Regions from separate parts of the Homo sapiens genome. Here region 1 is linked to region 2. A link means that fine-mapping ties the variant in region 2 to the expression of a gene that starts in the linked region. Tissue or cell type: adrenal gland. Region 2 holds a variant in brackets; the other region holds the start of a gene. All regions are shown on one strand. Distances are between the middles of the regions.

Region 1 (4,381 bases), 25 kb before region 2:
CTGCGGTGGGGGGTGTGGGGAGGGAAGCCTTCCCCAACCTGTAGCTGCTGTGGCCTGGAGGCCGAGCAGGGGGTGGGGGAGAGGGGCTAGATTCTGGGCTCTGGAGTGGGTGGGAGCTGTGTGCCTTCCAGCTGCCTTCTGCCCTGGGGGCTTTGCTAGGCTCCTGGAGAAGCAGGGTTTTGGGGTGCATGGAGCTTCACTGATGTTTGTGATGTCCCCTGCCCTCAGGATGCTCAGGAATTCAGTGATGTGGAGAGGGCCATTGAGACCCTCATCAAGAACTTTCACCAGTACTCCGTGGAGGGTGGGAAGGAGACGCTGACCCCTTCTGAGCTACGGGACCTGGTCACCCAGCAGCTGCCCCATCTCATGCCGGTATGGACGGAGCACACCCCACCTCAGCCAGTACCCTGACTTCCCAAGCAAGTGCTCCGGGACCCCACCCACACTGGCACTTGCAACCCCCAGCTCTTCCCCCTTGCCAGTGCTAGGTAGCCTCTGCTCCTGCTGTCTGCCCGTGGGCAGGGTGGGGTGGGAAGATTGGAAGGTGCTGCATCCCTGAGCCATGGTTTCTTCACTCCCCTCAGAGCAACTGTGGCCTGGAAGAGAAAATTGCCAACCTGGGCAGCTGCAATGACTCTAAACTGGAGTTCAGGAGTTTCTGGGAGCTGATTGGAGAAGCGGCCAAGAGTGTGAAGCTGGAGAGGCCTGTCCGGGGGCACTGAGAACTCCCTCTGGAATTCTTGGGGGGTGTTGGGGAGAGACTGTGGGCCTGGAGATAAAACTTGTCTCCTCTACCACCACCCTGTACCCTAGCCTGCACCTGTCCTCATCTCTGCAAAGTTCAGCTTCCTTCCCCAGGTCTCTGTGCACTCTGTCTTGGATGCTCTGGGGAGCTCATGGGTGGAGGAGTCTCCACCAGAGGGAGGCTCAGGGGACTGGTTGGGCCAGGGATGAATATTTGAGGGATAAAAATTGTGTAAGAGCCAAAGAATTGGTAGTAGGGGGAGAACAGAGAGGAGCTGGGCTATGGGAAATGATTTGAATAATGGAGCTGGGAATATGGCTGGATATCTGGTACTAAAAAAGGGTCTTTAAGAACCTACTTCCTAATCTCTTCCCCAATCCAAACCATAGCTGTCTGTCCAGTGCTCTCTTCCTGCCTCCAGCTCTGCCCCAGGCTCCTCCTAGACTCTGTCCCTGGGCTAGGGCAGGGGAGGAGGGAGAGCAGGGTTGGGGGAGAGGCTGAGGAGAGTGTGACATGTGGGGAGAGGACCAGCTGGGTGCTTGGGCATTGACAGAATGATGGTTGTTTTGTATCATTTGATTAATAAAAAAAAATGAAAAAAGTGAAACATGTTGTCTTGACTGGACACCCCCTCCCTGAGGGTCCACGGGTGAGAGGAGCTTGGGGGTGAAAGGCAAAGTCATTGGTAGGGTGGGGCACGTGGGGCTGGAGTGGTTGGCTGTGGAAGTGAATGGGGACTCACTTTTCCCTATGGGTTTGGGTTGAGGGTGGTACCAGGTCCAAAAGGGCAACATGGTCCTCTCTGAGGGACAGGCTCCTCTTTGCCAATGGGCGGGCCCTCTTATAGGAGAGGAGGGTATGTGTGCACACTTGGGGAAAAGGATATTAGTCCAGGTGTTCTGAGCCCTGGCTGGCACAACCAGGGAAATGGGGTGGGTGGGGGTGGGGGGCGGTTAGAAACAGGCTGACTGGCCTGAGTTTGAATCTCAGATCTGCCACTTATCATTGGAATTTTGGGCATGCTCTTAGTATCAGTTTCCTCATCTGTAAAATGGGGGATATGAATATTACTTCCACAGGATTGCCAGGAGGACAATGCCACACATCATGTAAAGCACTTACAGAGAGCCTGACACATGGTGAGTGCCCAGTGACCCAATATCATTCCCGCTGGAGTGGGCAAGTGGGCCCCTCTTTGGTTTCAGCTGCTGCCCTAGTGTAGGGAGGTCGAGCTGGCCAGTTTCCTTGGGTATCTTAGGGAAACGGTGGGGTGTGGGGAGTTTCCAGAGGAGTCTTCTGGTGTACATGAGGGATCTTAGGGCTGGGTCTCAGTAGAGCTGATGGGTCAGACTAGAGACAGAAGACCAGGGAGCCAGACAGGTCCCTGGCATCTGCCTTCTGATTTGAGCACAGAAGTCGGGCGTTACTCCTGAAACCCCAGTGGCAAGGAGGTTTCTGTGGCCAGTTAGGCTGGCCTGGAATGTTAACTGAACTTGTCTGTTGGGAGCCCCTGAAACTGGGATCCCAGTGACCCAGGTGAGAAAGGCAGGTGATAGTCCTTCCCTTCCTTTCTCTACCCTGTCAGGTTCTGCTCAGCCCCTGCGGGGCTGGGAGGGTGGGGTTGGGGGAGTGCCAGTTTTCACCACTCCCTCTGGGATGGGGGTAGAGGGGTGTGAAAAAAGGTGTGTATCCCTTTAACAAGGGCCCAACCCCAGGGCCAAGTCAAGAAGGAGCTCAGCCACTATCTCCCCACCGAGCCAGCTCAGCGGGCAGGGCTGGGAGGGAGTGGGACAGATTCTGGGAGTGCAGCGGGGAGGAGTCCCGGCTGGGCTGAGCGCAGGGAGCTGCTTGGCAGTGCCAGAGCCCAGGCCCCAGAGCCCTGCTGGAGAGGAGGCAGACTGAGGCAGCAGGTGAGCACCCTGGGCCCGGCCTGGGAGGTCTTCGGCTGCCGGAGGGCCCCACAGTATTGGGAGGCCAGGAGAAGGGGCAGTGAAGGGGGCCTGGGGAGAGGGGCCTGCCAGAGAGCAGGCAGGAAGATTTTGGTAATTATTAACTTTCTCCCACAGGCCAGTTTAGGAATGGGGAGTCCTGGGGGGTTGGGGGCTGGGTGAGGCCTTTAGAGGGATGGATGGGATGGTGAGACCCCCTCCCTGCCGCAGCAGCTGACGGAGCTCCTCTCCAGGGGCAGAGTATTTGGAAGCTTTGACCACAGCTACTCGATCCTCCCCAAAAGGAGAGGACAAATGCGTGTTGGTCTGGGTTGGGGGTGGTCAGAGCTTGGACACAGGCCTTGCTGGGCTCTGGGAGCTGTGTCCTAGGGGAGGTGATGGGGTCCAGAAGGAACCAGGCAGTTTCCAGGGAGCCTGAGATTCCGAGAAGAGGAGGCGGGGGCTGAGGTGGCGTCCCCTCTACCTCACGACCCAAGCAGACCCCACTGTGTTCCAGGAGCTGTTCCTTGAGAGGGATGATGAGATCTGGGAGGAACCCGAGTGAGGCTGTGGGGAGCCTGCAAGCTCCCTGGGAGAGGGAAAGATAGAGAGAGGGGGGCTGAACCTCGGCAGCTCCTCCACCTCAGGACCCAGGCAGGCCCCGGCTTGAGCTGCTTTTCTTGGCAGAGCCACCTGCACTATGGGAGCCTTCCCCTGCCCAGCCCAGTGGGGATGGTGGTGAGGGCAGGGGTGCTGGGGAGCTGGCTCTGCCTTTCCCCACATTCTAGTAAGTGTTGTTGAGGCTGGGGTAGCTGTGTGTGTGTTGGGGGAGGCGGGGGCAAGATCCACACTGAACTCCTCCAACTTCACTTGCCTGGAAAAATTTCAGAGGCTGGCTTCTTGCTCCAAGAACTGAAGTGAGTGGAAGGGTGATGGGTCACCCAAGCAGAGGGGATCAGGAATGGCCGAGGTCCTTGCTCGGTGTGTGTGTGTGTGTGTGTGTGTGTGTGTGTGTGAGAGAGAGACAAAGAGAGTTAGACGCAGAATCCTGTGAGGATGGTAAGGGGTGAGGCAGGGCCAAGCAGGCCCCACTATGCTCCGGGAGCTGTTCCTGGAGAGGGCCTTGTGGAATTGGAGAAAGAACACAGGAAGGAGCAGAGAATGGAACAGCTGAGGCTGGAGAAATTTCATTTGAAACAGCCTTGCTGATAGAGGTGGCATTGTCAGCCCAGTTCGGATGGCACCTTCCCTATATATTGAAGTTAGAGAGGACAAATGAGTAAATGAAAAAGGGAATGAATGAATGAATGTGCAAGAGAGTGAATGCATTATTGAATGAGCAAGTGAATGAATGAGAGTGAATGAATGAGCCAATAAATGAATGAGTAAGCAAACTCATGGTGCCTAAGTGAGCAAATGAATTCCAGGTAGATGGAAGGGACACAGAGAATCCATACTTAGGCTTGACAGTGGGCTAGGCTCTGGAGAGAACAGTGACCAGGAGGGACAGGAGTCTAGGGACACATCCCAACACTTGGAAAAAACTTAAGACTCCAGAGGTGTCTGTGGGGTGAGAAGAGAAGGTGGACTTAGGACGGTGTGGTGGATGTTTGGAGCTCCAGACGGAAGGAGCCTGGGGATGCTAGGGGTGGTTAGGAGGCATTTGGAGGGCGTGGAGCCCAGAACCTGGGGGTGGGAGGGTGGG
Region 2 (4,381 bases):
TCCCACTATTCTGCCCAGGCTGGTCTTGGAACTCCTGGGCTCAAGCAGTCCTCCCACCCTGGCCTCTCTAAATGCTGGGATTATAGGCATGAGCCACCACACCCAGCCTCAGAAATTTTATCAGTTGTTGTTTTATATATTTTGAGGCTATATGAGTAGGTGCTTTTATGTTCCTGGTGTTTGTATTTTCTTGTATTACCTCATTCTTTGTCTTTTATATTTTTCCTCTTGTATCCTCTTTTGTCAAATATTAAAATTACTTCCCTGATTTTTTTTTGGTTTATATTTGCTTCATGTATTTTCTTCCTTTTGTTTATTCCTTCTATTTTCTTGTTTAAATATTTGAAATGGTTTTTTATTTTTTTTCAGATGGAGTTTCACTCTTGTTGCCCAGGCTGGAGTGCAATGGTGTGATCTTGGCTCACTGCAACCTCCACCTCCTAGATTCAAGCGATTCTCCTGCCTCAGCCTCCCGAGCGGCTGGGATTATAGGCATGTGCTACCACGCCTGGCTAATTTTTTTGTATTTTTAGTAGAGATGAGGTTTCTCCATGTTGGTCAGGCTGGTCTCGAACTCCTGACCTCAGGTGAACCGCCTGCCTTGGCTTCCCAAAGTGGTGGGATTATAGGCATAAGCCACTGCGCCCAGCCCGTGATAAAGTTTTTTTATTTTCAGTGTTTCTCTTGTATGCAACATATTGCTGAACCTTAAGGAAGAAACTCAACCCAGGAACGTTTGTCTTTTAAGAAGTGTGTTTACTTTACCCATCTTTATTACAATTACTATAATATTAGGACTTATTCTGCCATTTAATTTTATATTTTTCATGTACTGTGCCTTCTTTGTTGTTTCTTTCCCCACCTTTGTTACTTTCCATTACATAGAGCCAACATTCTTCTCATGTTTTGAAAACTATACATTCTATTTTCTTGTTAATGTAGTTGCTTTAATTTGACTTTATGCTACTTCATTGAATAATTTTTAATTATTTATATTCTTCCTAATAATAAAGTTCCTTTCACACCCTCCTATCCCATCAGTCTTGTCTTTTCCTTCCTCTTTTTTTTTTTTTGAGATGGGGTCTTGCACTGTCTCCCAGGCTGAAGTGCAGTGGTACGATCTTGGCTCATTGCAACCTCTGCCTCCTGGGTTCAAGCAATTCTGCCTCAGCTTCCCGAGTAGCTGGGATTACAGGTGTGCGCCACTGTGCTTGGCTAATTTTTGTATTTTTAGTAGAGACGGGGCTTCACCATGTTGGCCATGGTTGGCCAGGCTGGTCTCGAACTCCTGACCTCGGGTGATCTGTCTGCCTCGGCCTCCCAAAGTGCTGGGATTACAGGTGTGAGCCACTGCACCCGGTCCGTTCTGCTTATTTTCATCATATTCATAGTATCTATAATTCAGGTTTTTTTTCTTTTTTTTTTTTTGGTGTAAGTTCCCAACCAATGGCCTTGTCCTTCGAGTACTTTTCCTCAGGCTGATGATAAAAGTTCTGTGTGAAGGTCCTTTTGCTTCAGCTCATCTATGGGACGGAGTCCAGCTGCAAATATATGACACAGTAACTAGAGACTCTACTCTCCAACCAATCATTCCATTCTGATTATCTCTCACTCTCCTCCACCTCTTCTTTCTCAGACTCTCTCCCCCTTTTAGCTTTTGTTGATATTCAATTTTATTATGTCATTTAATCATGTTTATTTCCTATATTGCAGGCATCATCCTATCCTCTTGAACTTATTTCTCTTCTTATTTGGATACTTTGAGAACTGTAAATGTAGGTCTTTGTGTGACAAACATTCTGAGGCTTTTGTAATGCGATAATTTTTTTTTTGTTTTTGAGACAGAGTCTTGCTCTGTCACCCAGGCTGGAGTGCAGTGGCGCAATCTCAGCTCACTGCAGCCTCTGCCTCCCCGGGTTCAAGCAATTCTCCTGCCTCAGCCTTCTGAGTAGCTAGGACCACAGGCACGCGCCACCATGCCCGACTAATTTTTGTATTTTTAGTAGAGATGGGGTTTCATCATGTTGGCCAGGCTAGTCTGGCTAGTCTGTAACTCCTGACCTCAGGTGATCTGCCCGCCTCGGCTTCTGAAAGTGCTGAGATTACAGGCATGAGCCACCACGCCTGGCCGAGAATATTTTTTACTATATTTTCAAATTTGAATGACTATTTGGCTACACAGAATTTTTTTTTCTTTCTTTCTCTCTCTCTCTCTCTCTCTTTTTTTTTTTGAGATAGAATCTTGCTCTGTCTCCCAGGCTGGAGTGCAATGGCGCAATTTTGGTTCACTGCAACCTTAGGCTCCTAGGCTCAAGAAATTCTTGTGCCTCAGCCTCCTGAGTAGTTAGGGATTACAGGGGCATGTCACCACGTCCGGCTAATTTTTGTATTTTTAGTACAGATGGGGTTTCAATGTGTTGGCTAGGCTGGTCTGGACCTCAGGTGAACCTCCCACCTCAGCCTCCCAAAGTGCTGGGATTAACTGGGTGAGCCACTGCACCTAGCCTAAAATTTCTTTCAGTACTTACAAACCTTGCCACTTTCTTGTATTCAGTGTTTCTATTGAGAAGTCTGATGTCAATTTGATTCGTGTTCCTGCAGGACAGTTCTCCCCATGGCCTTGGCCTTATCCAGTTATCTCCCCTTTATCACTTGGAGCTCTCAGGAATAACTGTAGAATG[G/T]GCTGAGATACAACATCCCGAGATAAAGAGGGACTGGTGAACAGCCTGGGCCCCGTTCCAGTAACCCCTAGAAACAGGATGTCCTTCAACTCATTAGCCAAGCATGTCACATTGCCCCAGGGGTGTAAATCCAGGGCAGGCTGCTTTTTTTGTTTTGTTTTTTGAGACAGGGTCTCGCTCTGTGGTCCAGGCTGGAGTGCAGTGGCATAATCACGGCTCATGCAGCCTTGAACTCCTGGGCTCAAGAAATCTGTTCTCCTCAGTCCCCCAAGTAGCTGGGGGTACAGGTGTGTGCCACCATGCCCAGCTGATTTTTTTCTTTTTCCTTTTCTTTTTTTTTTGAGACGGAGTCTCACTCTGTTGCCCAGGCTGGAGTGCAGTGGCCCGATCTCTGCTCACTAAAACCTCTGTCTCCCGTGTTCAAGCGATTCTTGTGCCCCAGCCTCCCAAGTAGCTGGGATCACAGGTGCCCACCACCACATCGAGCTAATTTTTTTGTATTTTTAGTAGAGATGGGAGTATCACCATGTTGGCCAGGCTGGTCTCAAACTCCTGACCTCAGGTGATCCGCCTGCCTTGGCCTCCCAAAGTGTTGGATTACAGGGATTACAGGCATGAGCCACCGCGCCTGGCCTGTTTTTTATTTTCTAGAGATGGAGTCTCATTATATTCCCCAGGCTGGTCTCAAACTGCTGGCCTCAAGCAATCCTCCTGCCTCAGTTTCTTAAAGTGCTGGGATTACAGGCGTGAGCCACCATGCCCAGCCTTAGGATGCTTTTTGGAGTCCCTCAGCTGAGATGCAAGTGGGGCACATGTAACTGAGACTCCATCTGCCCTGGGCAGCTTTTCTTTTTTCTTTTTTTCCTCTTTTTCTAATCCAGTATGACTGGTAGTTCCTGGGCAGCTTTTCTGAGCCTTGGGGTACCAGCCTGCCATGAATCTGAGGCTTCTGTTGTCCCCTGCTTTCAATCTGTAAGTAATAAACCTGCTTCATGTAACTTGAGTGTGTCTGTGTGTGTCTGTTTAACTTGACTCAGACAGGTTGAAACCAGTGCACAACGGACCTACTTCTCAATTCCTTTGTAGGCAATCTATTGCTTTTGGAAATGTTCAGAGTTTTAATTGAATTTGATCTTCTTCCACTTCAATATGAGTCTAAATGTGTTTTTTTCCTCAGTTACCCTATTTAGCATTCTATGAGCCCTTTCTATCTGAGATCTTTTTCTCTAATTCTCAGAAGTGTTTCAATGTTATTACTTCATTATTTCCTCCTCTCTGTTTTTTTTTTTTTTAATTCCCTGTCTGGGGAATCCTGTTATCCTGATATGAGCACTCTACTTCTATTCTCCATAGCACTTAGCTCCTTTAAAAATATTCTCTTTGTTCTCTACTTCTGCCTTCTGGGAGAGTTTCTCAGTCTGATCATTTAGCTCATCCATTTATTCTCCAGTTGTAGCCATCTTTTATTTTTCCCAATGATTATGCTCTTTATTTTATTTTATTATTATTTTATTGACACTCTGTCACCCAGGCTGGAGTGCAGTGGCACGATCTTGGTGCATTGCAACCTCTGCCTCCTGGGTTCAAGCAATTCTCCTGCCTCAGCCTCCTGAGTAGCTGGGATTACAGGCTCACACCACCACACCCGGCTAATTTTTGCATTTTTAGTAGAGACGGGGTTTCACCATGTTGGCTAGAAT

Alleles and levels. Alleles are on the strand shown, and positions count from the first base shown. SD is a standard deviation of normalised expression in the study named.
For the expression in adrenal gland of the gene that starts at base 2,473 in region 1, G is the high allele of the variant in region 2 and T is the other (large effect, 0.94 SD a copy in GTEx).

The links. PIP is the estimated chance that this variant, and not a neighbour inherited with it, causes the effect.
Region 1: it holds the start of S100A16, and the variant in region 2 is the best candidate, but not a certain one, in a credible set for the expression of S100A16 in adrenal gland (GTEx, PIP 0.63).

What each region holds. Positions count from the first base shown.
Region 1 is chr1:153,611,229-153,615,609 of GRCh38, reverse strand. S100A16 (S100 calcium binding protein A16) reads left to right here and starts at 2,473. Exons shown (of 3, transcript NM_080388.3): 1 at 2,473-2,658. It overlaps S100A14 (S100 calcium binding protein A14), which reads left to right. Exons shown (of 4, transcript NM_020672.3): 3 at 229-375; 4 at 588-1,355. The coding sequence ends at 725.
Region 2 is chr1:153,585,865-153,590,245 of GRCh38, reverse strand. No RefSeq gene overlaps it. Among named protein-coding and RNA genes, the nearest start is that of S100A2, 22 kb to the right of the region's middle. The variant G/T (reference allele first, on the strand shown) is at 2,682.